Regions from separate parts of the Homo sapiens genome. Here region 2 is linked to region 1. Evidence: fine-mapped QTL for protein levels in blood plasma. Region 1 holds a variant in brackets. A gene starts in the other region. All regions are shown on their forward strands.

Evidence for each region. PIP is the chance, under the fine-mapping model, that this variant and not a neighbour inherited with it causes the effect. The UK Biobank Pharma Proteomics Project read protein levels with antibody pairs (Olink). The fine-mapping took linkage between variants from a reference panel, not from the people measured, so its PIPs are less certain.
Region 2: CCDC50 starts here. The variant in region 1 is fine-mapped to the plasma level of the CCDC50 protein (UK Biobank, PIP above 0.99).

The regions. Positions count from the first base shown.
Region 1 is chr14:106,696,933-106,705,272 of GRCh38, forward strand. It overlaps IGH and the pseudogene IGHV1-68. Among named protein-coding and RNA genes, the nearest start is that of MIR5195, 150 kb to the right of the region's middle. The variant A/AT (reference allele first, on the strand shown) is at 4,611.
Region 2 is chr3:191,325,438-191,333,777 of GRCh38, forward strand. CCDC50 (coiled-coil domain containing 50) reads left to right here and starts at 3,957. Exons shown (of 12, transcript NM_178335.3): 1 at 3,957-4,286. The coding sequence starts at 4,238. UTS2B (urotensin 2B) reads right to left here and starts at 5,089. Exons shown (of 9, transcript NM_198152.5): 1 at 4,977-5,089; 2 at 3,194-3,272. RefSeq lists enhancers at 3,524-4,125, 4,126-4,726 and silencers at 3,653-3,732, 3,833-4,112.

The sequences.
Region 1 (8,340 bases):
ATTCTATAAGTTTAATGTGTAAAAAATCTGCACATAAGCACTCTATTCTAGTAGATAAACATGGTTCCATCAAGGGCACAGCTTTACACTTTTGATACTGCTATGCATGTGTCCTGAAACTGTGCAGCTAAGTAATAAAATTACATATGGTGGAATGGGGTTTCTCACTTTGCAGTGGGTGGTTATGGAAACGCAAAGAAAGAAGACTAGAAAGGTTCATGTGCTAACATAGTTGGGTGGAGAGACCAGTGTGTTCTCATTTTTAATGTGATATGGTTACAGAAGATTAGATACATAAATAGTTTCAATGAGTCCATAAACTTGGGTTCACATAAACATGCACGTTTACTGGGACCATTGTTTGAGAGGTTCTAGAAGTACTCATACCACATTAACAACACACAGAGCCAGTATCACAATGTTTTATTTTAATACTATTCTTTAACATCAGAAACATGCAATCTTTATAAAAGTGGTTGATTCTATGTAAAAAAAGGTAATAAAGAAAACAAGCTTAGAATTTATGGTAATACCAGGAAATACGCAAGTGTTCAAAAACAAAAATATGAGGTGTGCTGTAAGGATGCAGGATTCAAACAAAATGAGCTCCCAGCACCTAATAAAGCTGTGGTGCTTTGAACAATTAAATGAATGATGTAGCATGGATCTTTTTCAAAGTATAAAATGGACATCCATCAACCAATACTGATATTAATAGATGATTAATTAAAAAATAATAGGAAGAAGAACACATCTCCTTACAGAAGTATTCCAAATACATTAGATTGATGGTCCTCCAATCAAGCAGGTGAAGTTTAAACACTCATGAGTTGATTGTGGCCTGAGATTAGAGATATGGAAAAAATAATGACTATTAGTTTATTTTATAATGAAACTTCAGATATAATGCCAAAGGCATGATCTATGAATGAATAAAATTATATATGTTTTCAATCTAAATTTGTACAAACACACACACACACAAACACACACATTTTTCTGCGATACCTACTGATAAGGGAGTAAAAGGCAACCACAGACTTGGAGAAAATACTTCCTGTGGGGTTCAGTCAGGCTCGTGGGAAAAATTTTAGTTATAATAGCCACAAGTCCTCGTGGAAGGCTTGAGAGATTGCATAACTTCAGTAATAAATCTGGCTGAAGGCAGCCTAGTCCCCTTACCTTTAGTTTAGTAAATTTGAGTAGAAACAAAAGAATGTGGGGAGTTTATCTAACTAGCTTGTTCACTCATGTGGTCCTAAGACTCACCTTTGATCTACCTGGATGGTCAGTCAAGCTGGCAAAGCAGAATATCTGTGTGTCAGTGTACTTTATTCACCCGTTGTTGTGTCAGGACCTGCAGGACAGACCCCCACAGCCGGTGCCCCATGTGAGGATCGCTGCAAAGGGAGCGTGACAGACCCCATGAAAACGAAGGTTGAGGAAGACTGCGTGGTCAAGTCAGTAAAACAGTAAGTCATTGGTGCCCACTTGGGATCTCCAAGTTCAGGGGAGATTGTTCAGGCTGAGATTTCATCATGGGACAGCAGTTATCAGCTCAACACAAACAGCATATGAAAGTATTGTAACAGTTGCTTAAGGCTAGGGGAGCATCAGTTTCGCAGGCTCAATTAAGGCACCTAATGAAAACTGTTGTCTCACATAATCTGTGGTCCCAGAAGAAGGAAAGCTAGAAGTAAAGCTCTGGGAACAAGTAGGGAGAAATCTTGAACAGCATTACACACAAGCGCAACGGGTCCCAGCATCATCTTTAACACTATGGGCTTTAGTAGGGATGGCTTTAGTCCCATTATACAAAGAAGAACCCAAAAAGGGGAAGGAGGAAGAAACGTCACTTGCCTTACCACCTGCTCTTCCCAAAATAACAAAGAGGAAACGGAGGTTTTGCCTGAGCCCCCTCTTTCAATAGATAGAAAAAATAGAGGAAATACACTACAGCTATATGTCCCTGTCTTCGACAAGCAGCATTAAAAGGGGAGCTCTTAGACTGCCCAGTAATGCAAGATCAGCAAGGCAATCAGGTACACGAAGGGTTAAGAAAAGGCATTAGGGGCAGGAGCAAGTGCAGGAAGCTCCCCTCTGCCGGCAGCAGCTGCTGAGCAGTGTGGGGAGGGAGCTGGCACAGAGGAAACGCGGTGGCGAAAAGTGGCTTCTAAGCAAGCACAAAGCCGCAGCCGCCCTGGGACCCACCTGCTCCGCTCTCTGGCTCCGCAGGCGGCCCAAAGCAAAATTTGTTATGTTCTTTGTATACAAGCGACATCCCAGATTATAATTCTATGATAAGAGTTAAGTAAAATTTAAGAATTTGAGAAACCTCTTTCTAATAATGGCCACTGTTATCTCTCTCTTATTCCTAACATGACTCCAAATCCAGTTTAAGTAAAACAGTAACCTCTAAAGGGAGAGACATTACAAAAAGCCCCTAAGTTAGTTAGGGAGCAATTAAAAGCAAGCTTTGCTCCCTAGTAGGAAAAAGTTTCCTGGCTACAAGATTATTCATTTTATGGGTAATATTCTACTAACAGCCCTTAGAATTTACCCATTTTCATCATTCCCAAAAGGCCTAGTTAATGTGTTACCTACAAAAATAGTTTACTCCCCCATATTTAATGCTTTAGCACTGTTTACTGATAGATCTGGTAAATATGGAAAAGCAGCAGTCTGGTGGACACCACACAATTCATTCACTCAATCTGGGTTTACTAGCACTCAGAAAGCTAAAGTTGAGTCCTTAATATTGGGTCTAGAGAACTTTTACAGCCCTAATTAAGTCAACTCTGGAGCCAGCCCTGTGGACTCTTTTTCTCTGATTTCAGCAATTGCTAAATCAAAGTACACATCCTATTTTATTACACACATTCCAGCCCACAGCTCACTGCCTGGTCCATTAGCTTATGACAATAATCAAGCCAACCTTCAAGTTATGATATCGCTGCTTGACCAAGCCACCCAATTGCACCAATTTTTCCACCAAAATTGGAAAAACTTATCTAAACAATTCCAACTTATATAGAGACTGGCTAAACAGTCTCTGAGATCGCCAGCTCAACTTATACAGAGACTGGCTAAACAGTCTCTGAGATCGCCAGCTCACAGGCACGTCTCCTCCTTCAACAGGTATTAACCCTAGAACCTAATCTGTTGTGGCAAACAGATGTTACACACATCCCTGAATTTGGAAAACTTAGATAGGTACATGTATCCTTTGATATCAACACTCATTTAAGTAGTGCACATACTCCGCCTGGAGAGTTTACTCGATATGTCATTAAACATCTTCTTTTATCTTTTGCATTTATGGAACAACCCGCAAAAATTAAGACTGATAATTGTCCAGGTTAGGCCAGCTCACAATTTCAACAATTTTGTCACACGTGGAATATCCGACATTCCTCAGGTATCCCATATAAACCCCAAGGACAAGCAATAGTAGAACTTGCCAACTCCACCCTTAAAATATGCACAAAAAACAAAAACAGGGGAGTATGGGTACAGACCCTGCAACACTTTTGGCACAAACCTTATTTTTTTAATTTAGAAGACAAATTTGAATCCGCTGTAGAAAAGCACTTTGCTAAAATTTCCCAATACATGAAACCTGCAGTTTTATGGAAAGATGTAAACAGTAATGAATGGTGTGGTCCAAGTGAATTATTAATGTGGGGAAGAGGGTACGCTTGTATCCACACCCCCTCGGGTCGTCTTTGGGTTCCAGCACGACGCATCAAACCATACCAGGACATTGCTAGGACCCAACCCAGTACCAGAAATGAAGGAGTTAACCCTACAAGACCTACAGCCCCGGACGATGCAGCTTCTGTGAACAACACAATCCCCAGACATTACCTGGGGGGTACTGAAAAGGACAACTCAGGAGGCTGAACGAATCCTGCTCCAAATGCAGACACCATTTACTCCAGATAATGTGTTTGGTGCTATGATTTCTGTTGTACATTGCAACTCATGTAGGGTATTAATCCTTTTTATGCTCTCACTTTGTCTGCAACCTGTACCTGCTACACTCTATTGGGCCTCTATCTTAGACACACCTTTCTTTCACCCTGCCAAATGGGAAGACACTCCCTTCCCAGCCTATAGTAACGTGACTGCTTGGCTAGGAGGGATAGATTTACCCCACGTGGGGTCCCTCAATAATGGCACACAATGGACTAAGGTGGCAGATAACACTATATGTCAATCCACTATTATCCTCCCAGTGTGTGTAAGTTATAAAGACTCTAACCCTTACTGTGTACCTGCCCAAAAACAAGTATGGTTACATCATAGCAAAGGAAATGCCTTAACATTCTTAGCTGCAGATAGCCTCAAACTGAGCAATGCAATCCATGCCGCTGCTTCTTTCCCAAACATTCCTTCCTGTGCTAAGGAACAAAGCTGGGACAGTAATCGGTTCGACTTTAGCTGGGAGGTCTGTCATGGGAGACGAGCCCATAGCCTCCAGTTAGGTAATTATAACATCTTAGACTGGAGTCCCAGCGGCTGATTGCAGGGCAGCCTTACTAATACCTTCATCCATCAGAGCATCAATCAGTTTCATAGCCATGTCTTTTCCCCTATAATTTGTGCCA[A/AT]GGGGGGATGGCATATCCAAGGCCCCAAGTAAAGTCCATGCCGCCCCAAGGTACTTTATGGTGTCTGGGACATCTTAGCACCTCCCTTAACACCTGGCATGGGACATACCATATTTCCCGTTGCAACTATGCTATAAGCTTTATTCATAATCACACTGATCAGTGCCTAATTTGCACTACCCATCCATACGATTTCCTTATGGGAACTAACATTTCCATTACACCTCAAAACTCCACGTTTGTGACCTGGATGCAGGGACAGGCTTGGTTTGCCTCATGTATCACTAATCACAGTATATCTAACTTAAAAATTACTAGCGCCATGGTATTAAAGAGAAAATCTGAGGCATTCTTACCAGTCAATCTGGCATGCAATTGGCAAGGTTCCTATGCCCTTGCAACCTTAGAACGTGCCCTGTCCCAGGTCAGACACAAAAGATTCATAGTTACACTTATGGCCTTTATAGTCTCAGCCATAGTCATCCTGGCAACAGCTAGTGTTGCTGTTGCATGTATTATTGACTTAGTGTAAACTGCTGCCTTTTTAGATAATCTGGCCAAAAATGTGTCTAATGAACTTCTCTTACAGCAAGGTATAGATCAAAAAATTATCACACGTCTGCTAGCCCTTGAGGCTGCTTTAGAATATGTCAGGGAGCGACAAGATGCAGTGGCATTCTGACAGCATTTAAACTGTGACTGGGAACATGAACATATCTGTATCACTTCTCTACCACGGAATCTATCAATACATAGTTAGGATGAGGTAAAACAATACCTCTGGGGAACCTTTCATGACAATTTAACAGCAGACGTAAAGTAAGTTCAAACTAAAATTTTAGAATCTCTTCACGCAATAGATCTACACCCCCAACAAACAGTCATATGGAAGGGTGTGTGAGATCATCTCTCCTGGTTAGACCCCGCTCCTGGGGGTCACTCTGACTGGAAAAGAATGTTGCTAATTCTACTCATGATTGTTTTATGTTATTTGCTAATTCTAGGATGCAAAGCCAGAATAAGAGCAATGACTGCCACACCTGACAGACATGTTGCTGCGCATATCTGCACGCTCCAATCCAAAAGACCTGATGTAGAAAACAAAAAATGGGGAGATGTGGTGGTCCAGTCAGGCTGGTGGGAAACATTTTAGTTCTAATAGCCACAAACCCTCTTGGAAGGCCTGTGAGTTTGCATAACTTTGGTAATAAATCTGGCTGAAGGCAGCCTAGTCCCCTTACCTTTAGTTACATAAAGTAGAGTAGAAACAAAGGAATGTGAGGAGCTTATCTAACTAGCTTGTTTACTCATGTGTTCCTAAGACTAACCTTTGATCTACCGCGGGTGCTTAATTGCTTTCCACTCAAGAGGTCCACAATGTCAATTACCTTCTAGTGGTGTTTACTCACGGCCTTTGTCAATTAATCTTTACTGAATAAATGTAAGTCTCCCTGACTGATCGAGGCGGTGGCTGTGACTAAGTGGCCCAGATGCTCAGTCGAGCTGGCAAAGCAGAATATCTTTGTGTCAGTGCACTTTATTCATTCGTCATTGTGTCAGGGTGTGCAGGACAAACCCCTGCAACTTCCAAGTCACATATTTGTTAAATGAATTCTTTTAATTTGTTAATTAACTTTTATAATCAATATGCAAGTAAACTTACAACTAATCAAAAGAAAACAGTGCTATTGAAAATGAACCAAATATCAGGAGAGGCATCTCACCAAAAATTATATGAAAATTGTTAAATATGAATTTTATTAGGGGCATGTGCATTTAAGCAAAAATTAGATACCATTACTCACCTATTATAATGGTTAAAACACACAATTCTCATAATGATAAATGGTAATATAATGTGGAAACCCAAGAACAATCATTCATTGATGGTGGGAATTCAAAGAGGTACATGGTCAAAATGAGACTCTTTTTGGCATTTTTTATAGAGACAAAAGTAGAGTTAAAATGTGATCTTGTGTCTGTGTTCCAAAACATTTACAACACTGATTCAGAAATTGATGTTTACAAAGATACCTTCAGAGGAATTTCTATGTCAGCTTTATTAATTTGATTAATTCTCCAATCCCTAGAATTTGCTTACAGAATAAATGTTGCATAAGAAATCTCTCAAATAATTACAATTTCTCAAATACACATTTATATTGTTCCTTTTCGTAAATGACTTAATGCTATTTTCTAAGAAAGTCTTCAATCTAATAATCTTTGTCATCTCCTCCATGCCAGCACAGCTGCCTCCTCCCTGGGGTTCCTGACTCTCTCAGGATGTGGGTTCTCGCACCGTGTATCTTGCCCAGTAATACACAGCCGAGTCCTCAGATCTCAGGCTGCTCAGCTCTATGTAGGCTGTCCTCAGGGACATGTCCCTGGTAATGGTGACTCTGCCCTGGAACTTCTTTGCATAGTTGGTGTTACCATTGTAAAGTGTGATCCATCTCATCCTTTCAAGCCCTTGTCCAGGGGCCTGTTGCAACCAGTGCAAGGAGCAGCAAGTGAAGGTGTATCCGGAAGCCTTGCAGGAGACCTTCACTGAGGCCCCAGGCTTCTTTACCTCAGCCTCAGACTGCCCCAGCTGCACCTGGGAGCAGACACCCATTGGAGGGTGGGACACAGGAGTGGATGAAAGCCTCCTTGACTGTACTCAATCCCCTTCTCATCACTGGGACTTGGGAGCACCTTACCTGTAGCTGCTGCCACCAGGAAGATTAGCTCTAGGTCCTGTCCATGGTGAGGAGCCATGCTCTCGGGGGATTCTCTAGAGGCGGGATGTGATTGTTGGGTGAAGCTCTCAGGGCACAGACCATATTTACCTCAGTGGATCTCAGGTATTTACATATTCATGAGACAGGGCATTTCATAGCTCAAAGCCTGATCCATGATAAGAAAGGGAAGACAAATGACACATCAGCCTTGCAAGAGTGAGATGCTGATGGTCCAAGCCCTAATCCTGCTTGAGGAAATGCATGCCCCTGTCCATTTAGGAATATTTGTGGACAGAGGTCCTTTCACTGAAGAAGAAGCCCCCTCAGAACGGCCTCTCACTGTGAAACTACATTAGATTAGCACAGAGACCACTTGGATCATTCTGGGGACCATCTCGGTCCATGACACAGAGCAGGTGCCTTGGCCCTATGCTGGACCCGTCAGACACCAGCACAGCTCACTGATGACTCTGAGCAAGTGACGCTGATGTCCCACGTGAGTGGCCAGCACGTTCCTCTGAGATCCCTGGGGCGCTCCTGAGACAGTTTCTCCAGCACCTTCCTGGTGTCCTGATTCCCCAGGATCGTCAACAGAAAAACTCTTAGTTTACAGATTTGCCCTGTGATGCATAATTGGAGATGATTTTCTTATGTCATGGACACTAGGATTCAGAAGTTGAAACAGGAGTTAGGAGTTCTTTATGAACTCATGCTCCCATAATAATTTCAAGGGAATTTGTGTTTTGGATAAGTTTGGGTTTTATTTCCTACTGGATTTATTAGAATTTCATGAACTGTTTACATACTTTCAGTTCATGTGCATAGATCCTCATCTTTACATGCTGATTTCTGACTCACTCTCAGATCCACACTCTCGGATCCACCACTGCCCTGTCACTCACACAATGTAGGCAACTTTACTTAACACTGAAATCTGAATTTTTTTTTTGGAGATGGAATCTCGCTTTGTTGCCCAAGCTGGAGTGCAGTGGCACAATCTCAGCTCACTG
Region 2 (8,340 bases), not on the chromosome of region 1:
CCTGAGTTCCAGTAGGAAAAGAAGGGAAAGGGAATAGTTACAAAGGAGATATGGGGAATTTTGTGAGTAACTGATAGTGAATTCCATAGGGTGAGGGGACTTGAGCAACTGAGGAAAGTTGAGAGCATGAATAGGGTTGGGGAACTTACATATGTTATGAGAGTCCAGACAAAAATGCTTCAAGGCCTGGAGTAAAGAGGCCTAAACTGTACGGTTGGATTATTGTCCTAATAGTCTCTACTATGGGCTGAATTATCTGTCCCTAAGATTCACATGTTGAAGCCCTAGCCTCCAGTAATTCAGAGGGACTGCACTGCAGACAGGGTCTTTAAGGAAGACATTTGGGTTAGCCCTAATCCAATCTGCAAACTAAAAAGAGGGATTTCAGAAGAAACCAAATGTTCTGACACCTTGCTCTTGGACTTCTAGCCTCCAGAACTGTGAAAAACATATATAATAATTTCTGTTATTTAAGCCATTCAGTCTGTGGTATTTTGTTATGGCAACCTTAGAATATTCATACAGTCTTCTTGGTGAAAGTGAATAACAGTTCTAATTGCATCCTCATTTTTGGAACTGTTCTCTTAGGTATATTATGCTGATGAGCTAGGAAGCACTGGGGGCCAAGGAGACAGATAATTCTTTCCAGAAGTATAGTTCTGTGGGTCCCCTTTCCTGTTTTGCCAAGGTCCAGTGTAATTTATTCATTTGCCTATATTGTTTTTTTAACTTACTTTTAATTTGTGATTCTTACTGATAATAAAATTGGATAACTATATTTATTTATTTATGCAACAAATATTTATTGAGTGCCTATTATGTGCCAAGCACTTTTCTAGATACGCGGATATTAGGGAATCAAACAGATAAACCCCTGCCCTCACAGAGCTTACCTTCTAGTAAGGTAAGCTCTAACTGGGGGATGCTTTTGTGGAATTTGGTAGTTTTCAAACTGGAGTTTTCATTTCTTATGACCAAAGTCTCCCTACTCCAATCCAAGCATTTTATTGTTACCAAATTCACTTTATAAAAGTAGAAAATGTATCATGTAATATCCACCTAGAAAAAAAAATCAATTGATGCCTCCATATTGCCTTATAAATAAAATCCTTATTTCTCTCTATGGCATTCAAGTTGTGATTTGATGCTGAATTACTTGTTTGGCATCTGCCCCAAATTAGGGATCTGTATCCATCCTGAGAAGCCTTATGCTTTCTCTTTTATTGCAAAATGGACATTTCAGGACACCAAAAGATGTAAACTTGTTACAGAAATTCACCATATGTTCATTCCCTATAAATACTCAAAAGATACTAGCTCTTCCCCGTGTTACTGTCAGTCCTTTGCTAGAAGTTGCCTACTCTGTAATGCTGAGCTCTAATTGTTTGCTCAGCTTGGGGACCTATACAGAACAGGTGTGGAGTAGGAGAAGGAAAGCCCAACTATGGGGTGGATTTCCAGGTCATCTGCTCTAGTACCTGAAAAGGGCTCCTGGTTTTCATTACTTTTTCTGCTGAAAGCAGCCGATTCTCTAAACAATAGTTGTGGCTATTATATATGTTTCCATTTCTTCTCTAGGCCAGAAATGTGGATATTTTTATGCATATCTTACTGTAAGCACATCATATTTTAAGCATATCTTACTTTTGGCATATCTTACTGTAACAGTCACAGTCTAGGTAGGAAACAGGAGGTGCACTGTAAGTGATTTTACTGAAAAGAATGTAATGAAGAGACAATTTCAGAGGTATTAACTGGGTTAAGAGAACTAGGGGAGGCCGGGCGTGGTGGCTCGTGCCTGTAATCCCAGCACTTTGGGAGGCCGAGGTGGGCGGATCACTTGAGGCCAGGAGTTCCAGACCAGCCTGGCCAACATGCCAAAACCCTGCCTCTACTAAAAATACAAAAGATTAGCCAGGCGTTGTGGTGCACACCTGTAATCCCAGCTACTCGGGAGGCTGAGGCACGAGAATCACTGGAACCTGGGAGGCAGAAGTTGCAGTGAGCCAAAAGGAACTAGGGGAAGCCATCACACTCTAGGCCTGAAGGGACACTGGAAACAAATTGTTTTATTAGAGACCCATGAGAGCTGAGGCCATGGAAAAGAGGCCTCTACACAGGCCCTGTAGTCATAGAGGGACAGGACTGTGGCCAAAATTTTGGGTTAAAGGAAAGAAGAATACTCTGATATTTCTCTCCTCCCTTCTTTTGATTTTCTGCCAGTGCTTCCCATTGGTCAATCACAACAGGAAGCCACAGGTCAAAGGGGCCTAGTGATTTATCTGTAGGCATCCAAAGGCACGGCTTGGTAGAGAAGTAGAAACGATAGATTTGGGGAGGGAAACAGAAAATACTGCTGTTATAAATATTCTCTAGACCACAGGAAGTTAAAAAAAATTACTAGATTACAGGACAATTAAAAAATTCCCATAAATCTACCTTTCTAATACCACTTCCTTCTTATTCCCACATTTAACCTGCTGAGTGTTATCTCTGCCTAGCACTGGGGTGGGTAAACTTTTCCTGTAAAGCATATTTTAGACTTTGAGGCTTAAGAGGCAAGGTCGAAAATATTATGTCCTATTTATGTAGTGATTTGAAATGTAATTATTTGAACATATAAAAAACAGTCATTCAAATTCAGTGGCGTAGATTTGGCCTGTGGGCTATACTTTGCTACCCTCTGGCCTTGAAAGTCTTCTAAATTTTTGCTAGCCTAAAATCCACCTACTTTTCAATGTCAAGTTCAAATAAAACCTCCCCTACGTGGCCTCTCATACTGGGACTCTGAGCTGTGAGTGACAGAAAATCAACTATTACTAGCTTAAGCAAAACTGAGGATAAGTTGAGAGTTTGCGGGTTGTAGATCCCAGAATCCAGGAGTTGCTGAAATGCCAGCTGCTCTGGGGATATCCTGCTTTGCTACTGTGGTAACATCAGAACATGCCCTCTTCATCTCCCTTTCTCTTCTCTTTGCTTCTGTCTTCAGTTTGGCCTCATCATCTCCTAGAGGCAGATCTTTTCCACAAGAAACAGAATATGTAACTCTTTATGTACCCAGGAAAGTATTCTGTTTGACCTGTCTTGGTCACCCAGCCACCCTTCGATGAACCCATGTCGGTGGAGGAAGGGGGAAGAGTGATGGGGTAGTCTCGAGGTTCAGACATGGCACACGTTTGGGAGAGAAGCTCACCTCTGAGGAGTGGGGAAAGAGGCAGTTTCCCAAAAGGAGGATGCATTCTGTTGCCAGGAGATGAAACAGGAGAGGTTGTCTATTTTAGAGAGATAGAAATGTCACAATTACAATCCAATGTGTGCAGCGCTATAACAGAGATAAGTCTGACGCCTCGTTATCACCCACAGTACCTAACATCACACTTGGTAGACACATTCATGCGATTTTGATGAATGAATGACTCAGTTCTCCCAGCTGATTGTGTACACACTCTACTCCAAACTGGCCCAGAATTTTATCAGCTGCTCTTCATTCTGTACGTTGTATTTGGGGTTTTTATGGCCATCTACCATCTCTCCTCTAATTCCGGGTGCAAAAAGAGTGTATGAGAGAGAGGCAAGCATGCAGTAAACATCCTGTGTTAATCTCAATCCCAGAACCAGACCACAGAATGCTGACTACACCGCTCACGGGAAAGACTATGTTTTAGGTGACCCGTGTGGCCTTTTTGTTGAGGCCTTTAGGATACAAGGCCCCCACCTAAAGACGCGACCCTCCCGTAGGAGGGGGGCAGGGCCCGGGGGCGGGAGCACAGCGGGGCCCCAGCCTCAGGCGGCGCGTCACTGAGCACAAAGGAGACAACAGCGAGGCGGCAGCGGGCGCTGATCTTCGCTCGCCAGCCACTCGCAATTGCGGTTACAGACCTGCAGCTCCCCCTCCCCCAGCCGGCCCGCCCGCCTTTCTGTCTCCTCTCTCCCTCCGTACTGGACGGCCCCGGTCCATTTCCGGGCTCCGGATATTTGGTATCGATTGGGGCCGGGGACGCGGAGCAGGTGGCCGCGGCGGGGCAGCTGGGCCGCCAGCTTGGTGCCTCGGGGACCGTCTCCCGCTGCTTTGGTCACCAGCCCCTGCCCGCCCGACCCGCTCCGTTCTCCGGCCTGCGAGCCCTGCCGGCCGGACTTTGCGCCGCGTCCGGCGCTGCTGCTGCGCTCGGGGCCCCGCTCGGCGCCGGCGGTGACCGGGAAGCCCGCGTTAAAGGGGCAACCGGGACCCTGGCCCGGTATGGCTGAAGTCAGCATCGACCAGTCCAAGCTGCCTGGAGTCAAGGAAGGTAAGGGCCCCGGAGGGAGAGCGCGCGGGACCCTCCCCTCTCCCAGCCCGAGGTTCTCTCAGGTCAGGGGCGTTGCCATTTCGGCTCCCGCGGCCCTCGCCCGGTGCCCGCCCTGCGTTGGCCTTGCCCGGACGTGAAAGGAATTGAATTCAGGTTCTAGTGTGGGACGTTGGGCAAGTCTCCGACGTTCCAAGCCCGTTTTTTCTCAAGGGGGTGGTTGGGGGGGGGGGGGGCTAGCAGCAGCCCCAGCAAGTAGGTGGCTGTGCCCGTGTTCTCGTGCATCGCAAAGCCTCAGTGGACGCTGAGAGCCGGGTGAATCTGACTTACTCCGCTTCTAAAAAATCGAGGCCCAGCCTGGCTGGCTTGAAGGCTGGGAAGTGGAGAGGGGTTGACATTCAGTTCCGTGTGGAGCCTTTGTTTTGAAACATGACTCTTTCCCTCCTTCTCTCCCTACTTTTCCTAGGCCGGCGTCTGGCTGGCTGACTTTCCCACCTTCCTCAAGGTTTAAAAGTTTAGTCTTGGCTGTGTTCTGCGCGGGCGGGAAGCCACTATAAGCATTTTCTTACAAACAAAACACACACACACACACACACACACACACACACAATAGTGAGCGAGGGGAACAGGGGACTGATGGCCTTGTCATTGCTTTTTGTACCAATGTCCAGGAAAGTAGAGATTAGTACTGACCTGGCTTTAGCTGACAGCAAGTAGCCTTTTGACTTCCCTTCTCTTGTTTTTCCACTAGCTGCCTCAGGACCTAGCTTTTTTTTGCTGAGATCTTAGGTGCTGGATCGCCTTATGCCTTGAGTTATCTTTGTTTATTCTTTGGTCCTAGGAAGCATAGACGTTCCAGAGTGCTGACGCAGACCCCTAAGTTCCAAGGGCTTTGCAAAATCGGCTTCTGTTGTGAATGTCATTTGTATCGATTGAATACTGTAGCCTGAGGCGTCTTGGAGATGTGGAATTGAAAATAGTTTTTGCTTTCTTGGAACCGCTTGTTTTATTGCCAACTTAATTTGACTCCGTTGGTCTTGTGTGTGCTCAGGCCAGCCCAAAAATCTCAGGAAAATGAGGGACTGCTTGATTGCTTTCTCAGAGTTTCAAGCACTAGGAGACTAGTGACTAGTGGTCACTGATTTTATGTAGAATTTCTGATGGGCCTAGTTCTGTCTTACTGTTCCGGAAGGGTGTTAAAGCTTAGGCGTGAGATTTTAGCGTTAATACTTTTCTACCTTTCCGTCCCTGGTATGGCTTTGATGAAGACTTAGGGCTTTCACCTGTAGAAAACAGTTTTCACTCTGCTGTCAAGACTAAGGAGGCTGAGCGATAGGAAAGGCGGATCCATACTTTTGAGAGTTCTTATCTTAGAGATTGTCTGGTTATCCTTTACTTTTGGATATGAGGGTTTTTTGTGTGGGTATGTGTTGGGTTTGTCTCTAGAGAAAGAGTGATCCTTGTGCAGTGTGTAGTGCATGGTGAGTAGAATGAGAATTGGAGTTCAAACAAAACCTGGTATGTATAGTATTAATCATATGGTGCTATGATTTTATCCAATCCCCTATTCATGTGAGTGAAAAAACATAAAACTCTTCATATACATTTATATTACCCTTAGGTCTTCTGATTTCGTACCAAGACATGAATGATGTATTCTAACATATTATTTCTCAAGGAGTTCCACAAACACCTTCCATATAAAAATGCAAGATTTTTCCATTTCCACACTCTAGAGTCTAATACATTTAAATTAGCTTTCATTTTGCGTAATACGGTGTTTGGCAATCTCTTTTATGTAATCTGGTAAATTGGTAAGAAAATTCAGTGTGGCTCTTTCATTAAGTTACAATTAAATATTAATTTTGAAGGTGGTCAGGAATCGATGAGATCACTGTCTTTGTAAACATCTGACTTTTCTAGTTCCAAGATCATCAAAGGAAGTGATGTATTATACTAGGAATGTCCTACTAATGGTGGTGAAGTTTTTGATCTGAGAAGTATTCAAGTCTAATAAAGTGTATCCTTCCCTAATATAACTCTTAATTATGGCCCAGTTACTCCCTAACAGTGTCTTTATCCTAATTAAAGAGAATGAAGCTTGTGCCCCTGATAGGGTAAAACATGTGCAAACATTGAGACTGTGGTAATATTGAAACTCCAACTTCATTTGAGAAGGGTTAGTAGTAGTAATTAGTTTAATATTCTGATGCAGATTTTTGAACCCCATTCAAAAAAATCCCTGTATCTGTCTCCTCTACTTTTTAATTTAAACTTTTGATAGATATATATGCAGTTACAATTTATATTCAATTTGGTATCATGGGGTAGATTCCAATAGAGATTAAGAAGAATAGTGCAGTGAGTGTGTGCCCGTTTCCATTGCTGTTTAGGAGGGGATGGGGCACCCTGTGACCTTTTGTCGTGAACATTTCAATAGAGGTCGTGGGTAGCAGCTGACATTAGGGTAAGGGGATATTTAAAAATCTTCTTTCCTAGGTTGAAATCTAATGCTTGCTTACTTAGTTTTTAAGGAAGTCAAAAATATTCATCATTTGGACAGACCTTTTGAAAAAACACACACACATACACCTATGGTAGTATTTATACCTTGGTAAATCTCTTAAACTGGGAGACAAAGGGAAATGATTGAGTTCATATGTAGGTGAAAAGAATCAAGTCAACTAAGTGTCAACACATCATTTTTTCTGGTTAAAAGTGTGTTTGGAACATCTGTATACTTTTTGTAATGGAAAACGCTGTTGCCAATATTCAGGAATAATACTCTATTTCTTCTGAAACATTTGAGGTTCTAGATTTGAAATAATTTCCAGCCATTTTAAACTTCAGTAGGTCTATAACTGAAATGCAAAATGCAATTTGCGAATGTTAGGGAAAGGAACAGGCATGTTTCAACAATATTCTGAAAGTTTCTTGGAGTTCAGAGCTGGAAACATATTTTTGTAAAAAACTTTTAATCAGTTGACAAACTTACATTTTTCAGGGGGTCAGTTTTAGCTTCTTCATTGAATTTTTCTTTTCTGAACCAGCAATCAAGACTCCCTACTTCCTTTTGCTCTCCAAGTTCCTGTATCGGTAAATGAATTGTCCACTTGCTGTAATTTTGCCATTTAGCCCTCTCTAACCAAGATGTTGATCGAGGCCTTTCTAGACATTTTGGCGTTTCATCAACTTCTTTGCAATTTCTTAAGCATTAGAGCTTTACCACTTTTAGCCATGCAGTGCATGCTTTCAACCTCTCCTATTTTCTCCAAGTGTTAATCTTTATTTTTCTTTCCTTACAGCAGTTCTCTCAATCTCATTTTTATGTTCAATTCTTACATTCTTTAGGTGGAAAGTTCCACTGTCTCAAAGTTGGTGAATTCTGTGTGTGTTGGTGTGCATGTGTGTGCTTAACATCTGAAATCAGTTTACCTAGGAGTGACTTACTTCTTGAAGTACAGGTAGCTAGCTATTCTGGGAGCAAATCCTTTTTCTTTAGTGAAAGATACAATTTAATACATTTTTAGAAATGTCTGTAAAAGGAAACATACCTAGAAAGCACTGATTTATTTTAGGTTCAGGGCACTCCAGTGGCATAATGTGTTAAATTAAGTTAATGGCGTACATCCAGACCTTCAAGGGGGAAAGATATAAAATTATGTCTGGTACCATCAGTGAACCCAGTAGTCTAAGAAATTTAGAGCTTATCACATGCACACTAGGCATCTAAACAGATGGCAGTGTCCATGAGATGTACATATATCTGGCTACACGGCAAACCCACTTTCCCTGTTTTTCAAAATTCCATAACAGTTTTTGTTTTGGTTGTTGGTTTTTAATGAGACCCTGGCTGGATCTCTTGGAGCTAGGAGGTTTATGTCTTAGTTATCTTGCTGTACCCTCATTTGGATGAATGTCTTTTATGTAATCAGCAACTATTCAGTAAATATTTGCATGTGTGAATAAATGAATGAGTGAATGAATGAATACATTATTATTCTCTGTTGGTTTAGGAATCTTGTCTCTGGCATAATTATTTTGTATTCTTTTTCAG